Linked DNA regions of Homo sapiens. The protein of the gene in region 2 interacts with the protein of the main gene of each other region in a pairwise test. Each region holds a gene or a part of one and is shown on either strand. Other genes may lie near its edges. The genes, in order: CHRM2 and TSPAN33.

Evidence for each region.
Region 1: the proteins of TSPAN33 (region 2) and CHRM2 interact in a two-hybrid assay, tested with the Homo sapiens proteins (one large-scale study listed by BioGRID and IntAct).

What each region holds. Positions count from the first base shown.
Region 1 is NC_000007.14:137,011,433-137,015,259, reverse strand, and holds part of CHRM2 (muscarinic acetylcholine receptor M2), read right to left. Parts: intron 441-3,827; 5' UTR 395-440; coding exon 1-394. UniProt on the Homo sapiens protein: The muscarinic acetylcholine receptor mediates various cellular responses, including inhibition of adenylate cyclase, breakdown of phosphoinositides and modulation of potassium channels through the action of G proteins.
Region 2 is NC_000007.14:129,165,059-129,168,885, reverse strand, and holds part of TSPAN33 (tetraspanin-33), read right to left. Parts: intron 2,109-3,827; coding exon 1,980-2,108; intron 1,488-1,979; coding exon 1,326-1,487; intron 1,114-1,325; coding exon 1,012-1,113; 3' UTR 1-1,011. UniProt on the Homo sapiens protein: Part of TspanC8 subgroup, composed of 6 members that interact with the transmembrane metalloprotease ADAM10.

The DNA.
Region 1 (3,827 bases), 7.8 Mb from region 2:
GGTAGGTCAGAGGTTTTGTGACACAGAAGTACCTGTCAAAGCTGATGATGAGCAGATTCATAACTGAGGCATTGCTGACCACATAGTCCAGGGCTAGCCAAAGGTCACACACCACAGGTCCCAAAGGCCAGTAACCAATCACAGTGTAGAGGGTGTACAAGTTCATGGAGAAAACACCTATGATAAGGTCAGCACAGGCCAAGCTGAATAAAAAGTAATTGTTGACGGTCTGGAGGTGGCGGTTGACTTTAATGGAAACCATGACTAGGATGTTCCCGATAATGGTCACCAAACTGAGGGATCCAGCCACCAGGACAATAAACACCACTTCAAATGTCTTATAAGGACTTGTAAGAGCCAGGCTATTGTTAGAGGAGTTTGTTGAGTTATTCATTTTGCGTTCTCTAATCAGTAGCCAAGTAGCAAATAAACATTTAAACCTGCAAGGAAATAGAATAAAATTAACAAACATAATATAAACATTGGTTTAAAATACATAATGTTGTTTCTCCTTTTAAACCACATTATTTTCTCCCAAATCTCCCTTCCCCTGCATGATTACTGTGTCTACCTGCCTCAATTCCCCATGTAAAAAGCAAGACCTTCAAATGGAGGATTCAAAAGGACCTTTCAGGCTGGCAATGAACTTGAAGTCCAGTAATGTTTTAAATATGTCCTTATCCAGATATGAGTATCTATCTACCTACCTATCTACCTATATATCTCATCAATCCATGAAACTTAGCATAATACTGATAAATTGAATTAAATAAACCAAAATTACAAACAACACTTTCTAAAACATCAAGGGATTCCTGGAATAGACATAAAAATTAGTAAATTAGTGAGAGGACACAATTATAGAAGAAAGCATAGAATGTATAATATTGAATGTGTGACTTTTATAGTTAACAGTGCCTTTCCTCATGGAAGCTCTAAGCCTTTTTCACAATAACACTGAGGATGGTGAAAATAAAGATAATATAATAATACTTAATAGCCAGTATACTCTCCCTAGATGAGAATTATTTTCCTCTTGCCTCTATTTTATTTCATACTTGTAATCAGTATTACATAATCAGCATTTCCAATATTCCATATCTTACACAAGAATATTTGCTTATTAAATGCATATTGAACTGAAAAAGCCAAAATTATGCATAAGACTTTCCAAAGCATAAAGAGATTTCTGGAATAGACATACAAATTAATACATCAATAAGAAGACAAAATTATGGGAGAAAATACCACTTTTCTGAATGTTTTGTTTTTCAAACCACTATCAAATCTATTATCTTACTATTCTTTCTGCCAAACTTTTTGTTTTGTAGAAGGAACTAAGGCTCAGAAAGATGAAATCCCAGTTTGTTCAGTCATTCATTCTTTCACTTTGTGCTCACATATCTATTGAGCAGCTTCTCTTAATTAGGTGTTCTGGACGTTCAATGATGATTAAAACAAGGTCTCTGCCTGGTGGCAGACATGGGTTGATGAAGAAGCAATTATTAAACCTGAATGCACTTCTTGTTTCCCTATCCTGTTGTGTGTAAGTAAACACATAATCATCATTTTTGAGATAATATCATTGAAGTCTGATGACAATTGAGTGATCTTTCATAATGGAAAATGTATATTGGGGATTTAGAAAAGAAAGTTAAGAATTCATCAAAGAGATATGACACATTTCTGGAGAAACAGCATCTGAAGCAGAAACTAGCCCAAGTTCCACCTCTTTTTGAAAAAATTGCTGTGAGCTGTCAGAAAATAAGCATTGCTGAGAAATTAAAATTTGGGAATATTGATTAGTTTGGATGCTATTAATTACAAAGAAATGGGCAGTGGTTTGCCCTTGAAATCCATGTAGAAAATAATTTGGTAAGCAACTTCATAACACAAATAACATTTAAAAAAATAATTTTTTCTGCTTTGGAAAGTCAATTGTTTTCCAGTATTTTATTTGACAAAACCCAAATAATGGGATTTGGCCTTAATATAATAAGACCCAAAATTCAGAAGCCAGAAAGGAAAATATATGTAACTGTTGCATATTCCTTTAAAATTTTTGCATAGAGCAAAAAAGTCAAAATAACAATTGAGAAACAATATTTGTAAATTGCACGATAGAAAATTATCCAATGTCTTTAATATAATAGAGTTTTGGCAAAAAAGGAAAGATGAAAGATGAATAATCTAAAACATTGATGTAGTAGTTCAATCAAAGAAAAATTAGACATTAATGACTTTTAAACATATGAAATGATACTCAACCCCACAGTTTAAAGATGCAAATCCAGACAGTGAAAAACAATTTTCCATCCGTAGTATTAATGGTAGTGTTGAATACTTTTGGTGGGACTAGCGGGATAATCACCACGAAGGATAATGTATCTATATCTATAGAACTTTAAATCTGTATCTATAAAAATGTATTAAGAAACACTTGTCTCAGGAATGCCACATTTAGGAATGTGTCTTTCAGATAGAGTCATAAAAATGTACAAAGAGGTCTACTCAAGTATGTTCACTCAGAAATGTTGTTATAGCAAAAAAATCCCGAGATATATTAAAACTATTCATTGACAAGGGATTGGTTAAATATATTATGGAATACTCTTACAATGGAATATTATGCGGCTAGTAAAACAGGTAGATATTTGTGTCCTGGCATTGCTGTGGAAAGTTATATAGTTAGAAGATGACATAATCATAGTGAGACATAGATTATTACAGAATATAATTTTATTTAAGCAAAAAGGTGATTATATGTAATATTACATATGTATGCCTGCAGCTCATTGGGAAATATTGAAGAGTTTAATCAGGGAAATGATGTTAATGGAATGCAACTTAGATCAGTTGAATTATTTTAATCGGATTTCCCTTTGACAATCCTTTTTTGCAATTAATCATACAATTGTATATTCATGGTAATTTATTTGAACAAAAACATTTTATTATCCCAGTTCTTATTCCAACAATTTCTTAATAGCTCAGCTAACTGTAAGATCAGAATTGTGACTTGCTTATAAGCAGCATTTTCTCTGTTTATTAGATAAATTCATGGACAGTTTGGAGTTGAGCTATATGTGTATCTGTTTCATGAAATGTTAATATTAATTCACTTAGTTTGAAAAATACAAAAAATGAATGTATTGACTCTGCATTTTAATTATTCATAATTTTGATAAAGCATAGGACTTATATTCTAGTTTTTAAAAGATTTTTGATAATTTCCTCTGGAGAATAATGAATAACACTGATGTTGAAAAGTAGGGATTCAAAATCAACTAGTTTGATGAGGATCTAAATTGCTAAGGTCCAAAATCCCCAAAATTACAATCCTGAAAGATTAAAATTCTGAATGTTGAAATCCTGAAAGCTGAATTCTGGAAAAGGGGTTGGCATTTCACTTGCATGCAGGATGGTCTCATCACATTGGCCTGCATCATGTTAGGTGGAACCATCACCTTGTTACTGCTTTTATTTGGAAATAACATATAGTTTGAGGAGATGTATATGAACACTAGGCTGACAAGTGGTGGACTTGTGAACTTAATTTTAGGTGTCAACTTGGCAGAATTAAGGAATACCTAGAAACCTGATAAAATATTAATTCGGATGTGTCTGTGAGGGTGTTTCCAGAGGCAATTCGTGTTTGAGTGTGAATGGACTAGATGGGGAATTTTGCCCTCAGTGTTGGAGTGCATCATCCAATTGGCCAGAGCCCAGTGAGAACAATTTCAGAAGGTGACTTGATCTGTCTTGGAAACTGTGATAGACTTTTCTTCTGCGGTCTTGGACATCAGAATTCCAGGCAGACCGGGCTT
Region 2 (3,827 bases):
TCTACACCTCCCCTTCCAGTTGCCAGAATGGAAAATTCATGGAGTCCCGCGTAGCCCAGGTCAACACGCTTTTATTGCCACTTCTGGCTCCCCTCGTCCCAGCAAGATTCCTACCTCTTACCCTGTAGGAATACTGAGCTCCGATGCAGGGGAATGGGGTGGGGGTGTTACCACTTCTCCTCTGCACACTGCCAAGTTAAAGAAAACCCTGCTTGCTGGAGAGGGAGGGCCAGACAGGGAGGAATTCAAGGGCATGTATGGCTCAGTCCCACTTCTGACTGCAGAGTATAGGGACCAGGGTTCCAAACTTTTTTTCGAAGTAAGGGAGGTGGGGAAGAATTTGGCTGCTGTTGTACCCCGTGTCCTAGCTGCCATGTTTCCATGGAAATGAAGGCGGGGCAGGATGTAGCTCACTCTGACTACCTGGGAGGATGGCAGGACAGGCATTTGGTAAACATATCTCCCTCCACTCCTACCTAGCACATACGGCTGTCCCCAGCCGACCCCCAGGCTCTCTCCTCACTGCCTGCTCCACTCCCTTCCCTTCTGGAGCTGGTATCATGCCAAGTGGAGTCCAGGCAGGGCTGCCAGTGCTACTCTCCACAGCCAGGTCTCACTGGCACGTTAGGATCTAAGTATGTCCGCCAAGCTCAGGAGCATCCCTGCTAGAGCTGGTGGTGGCAGTGCCTCGGTGAAAAGGCAGCAGCAGTACCCCCAACTCTCTGTGCAACTGCTGTTTCCCAAACAAAACTGAAAACATAAACCCAAACACTTAAGGGTATCACTCTGGCACAATGCTGAGGGCTGGGATGGGGGAGAGGAGGCGCATCCTCCTGAGACTGGAGCCACCTGTGCACCCTGCCTTCTGCCCATCTGGAGTTTGCTTCTTCCCACTGGGCTGTCACTGGGGGGCTGGAATCCAAATCTCCATTTGGTGCTGCTTTCAGCACCCACTGCTGTTCGTTTATGAGGCTTGCCAGTTTCCATGGTGAGGAGGTGCAGGATGGATTCTCAGTACCATGGGTCAGCCCGGTGCTGCTGGTTGTAGAGCTGTAGCTTGATCTGATCTTTGATCTGATTCACTAGGATCTGGGACAGCAGAATTCCCACCAGCTGGGAGAGGCAAGAAGGAATTGGGCACTCAGCAGTGAGTGATGGCCTTGTTTTCCCTGGCTCGATCTTCCCAGTGCGGCCAGCACTATCCCTTTCCCTACCCCTCAGCCATGTCAGTGCCTGACACCCTCGCTGATCCCCAGGTGCCTTCCCCAAAACAAAGGAGTCTTTACAGAGTGTGTGGGACCAACAAGTCTCACAGGGTAAGTTACCTGGGGGATGGCCAGGCCTAGAGCCACACCACCAAGTAAGAATAGGTTGCTGTGTATCCAGTTGACCAACTTGTCAATACAGCCATTGGTGTAGATGACTTTGCTAGCTTCCAAGTAGTCAAAGGCCTGCATACCTTGGCCACACATAGTGTTGATCACTGCCTGGGGAAAGAGTTGAAAAGCCAATTGGGACTGTAATTCCAATAACTTTTTGTTTGGGGCCTTAGCTGATGGGCTTCCCACCCTTCCCAAACTCCTAAATTGTCAGAGAATATATGTGGAGGATATTGGGTTGGAAGTTGCCAAATGCAGACTTCCCTTCCTCTGAGAGGTCAGGATCCAGGTCTCTTTGCTCTGGGTGGTGGAATAATCTGTACAACAAACCCCTAAGACACAAGTTTACTTATATAACAAACCTGCACAGGTACTGAATCTGAACTTAAAACTTAAATCTGTCCCTTCTGAACTCCATGTGGACTACATGAGTATGAGGTTAATAGAAGCATCAGGTTGGGGTGAAGAAAAACACCTGACAGCTGTCCCACATGACTGATCGGTGAAGCTAGGGGATGGGGATCCCCAGTAGCAGCTGCCCCCATCAGAAAGTGACTCAGCTCGCTGCCTAGGAGGAAATGAGGCAGGATGCTGGCTCACCTGGTCAGGAGTAGGCAAGCAACAGGAGTAAGGCACAGAGCAGCGCTCTCGACTGGGGTTGTCTTCTGAGCAGTTGAAATACATGTTCTGAGACCAGTCCTTGTAGGAAATCCCTCCACAGCAGCTAAACTGCAACAAAACCCACCAGAGGTTAAGAATCACCCACCCCTCACACTGAGGTGACCAGGGGAATTCTCAGAGCCACCAAAAGTCTATAGCAAGCTTCTACTGGGAACTTTAGGTTGTGTTTTAACACAGCCTTAAACTTTGAGCTCCAGCTTCCCAGTTGCCTTCGCCTGAAGATATTCTCACTTCTTAATTTCTATTACTTCGTATATCTTGTTATAACTTACCACTGTGCTTGTTGGTATTACAGTTGTACATATATTTTGTTTTACATACTCAGCTATAATCTTCTTGAGAGAAGTTTCTGGCTTTGCAGGCAAATGGAAGTGATCAAAAGTATTGGCTGAAATAATTACAGTATCAGTGCTGAAAAACTTCTCCTTAAGATAGAGAAAACACAGGGGAGGAATCTTCAATATTGTGAGTCAATCATTACTCCATGAGAGCCAACTGGATCTCAAAGTCAAGTGTCTATTGCACCAGAGGAAGGGGAACTCAGGACTTGTCTCAGAAGCACTTTTACTTAAAAGTTAACTTTTTTGGCCAGGTGCTGTGGCTCACACCGGTAATCCCAGCACTTTGGGAGGCCGAGGAGGGCAGATCACCTGAGGTCAGGAGTTCAAGACCAGCCTGGCCAATATTGCAAAACCCCATCTTTACTAAAAATACAAGAATTAGCTGGGCGTGGTTTGGCAGGCACCTGTAATCCCAGCTACTCAGGAGGCTGAGGCAGGCAGATTCACTTGAACCCAGGAGGCGGATGTTGCAGTGGGCCAAGATCACGCCATTGTACTCCAGCCTGGGTAACAGAGCAAGACTCCGTCTCAGGGAAAAAAAAAAGTTAACTTTTATTTTTCACTTATTTATTTTTGAGACGGAGTCTCTGTCTGTCACCCAGGCTGGAGTGCAATGGCATGATCTTGGCTCACTGCAACCTCCAACTCCCAAATTCAAGCTATTCTCGCACCTCAGCCTCCTGAGTAGCTGGGACTACAGGTGTGCGCCACCAAACCCGGCTAATTTTTGTATTTTTGGTGGAAACAGGGTTTCATCATGTTGGCCAGGCTAGTCTCAAACTCCTGACCTCAAATGATCTGCCTGCCTTGGCCTCCCAAAGTGCTGGGATTACAGATGTAAGCTACCATGCCTGGCCTAATTGTTAACTTTTGATTCATAGCAGCCTTGTTCACAGTAGCCGAACGGTGGAAGCAACCCTTTTCTCCACTGGTGAATGAATGGATAAACAAAATGTGGCATATACATACAACAGAATATTATTCAGCCTTCAAAAGGAAGGCAGTTGTGGCACATGCCAAAACAGAGATGAAACTTGAAGACATGCTAAGTGAAATAACCCACTCAAAAAAGCATTAATACCGTGAGTCCCTTCATTTGAGGTACCTAGAGTTGTCAAATTTACAGACAGAAAGTAGAATGGTGGTTGCTGGAGGAGAGGAAAATGGGGCTTTAGTGTTCAATGGATACAGAATTTCAGGAGAGGAAAATGGGGAGTTAGTGTTTAATGGATACAAAGTTTCAAGAGAGGAAAATGGGGAGTTAGTGTTTGATGGATACAGAGTTTCAAGAGAGGAAAATGGGGAGTTAGTGTTTGATGGATACAGAGATTCAAGAGAGGAAATGGGGAGTTAGTGTTTGATGGATACAGAGTTTCATCTGGGGCAGATGAGCGTTCTGGAGATGGTGGTGATGGTTGCACAACAA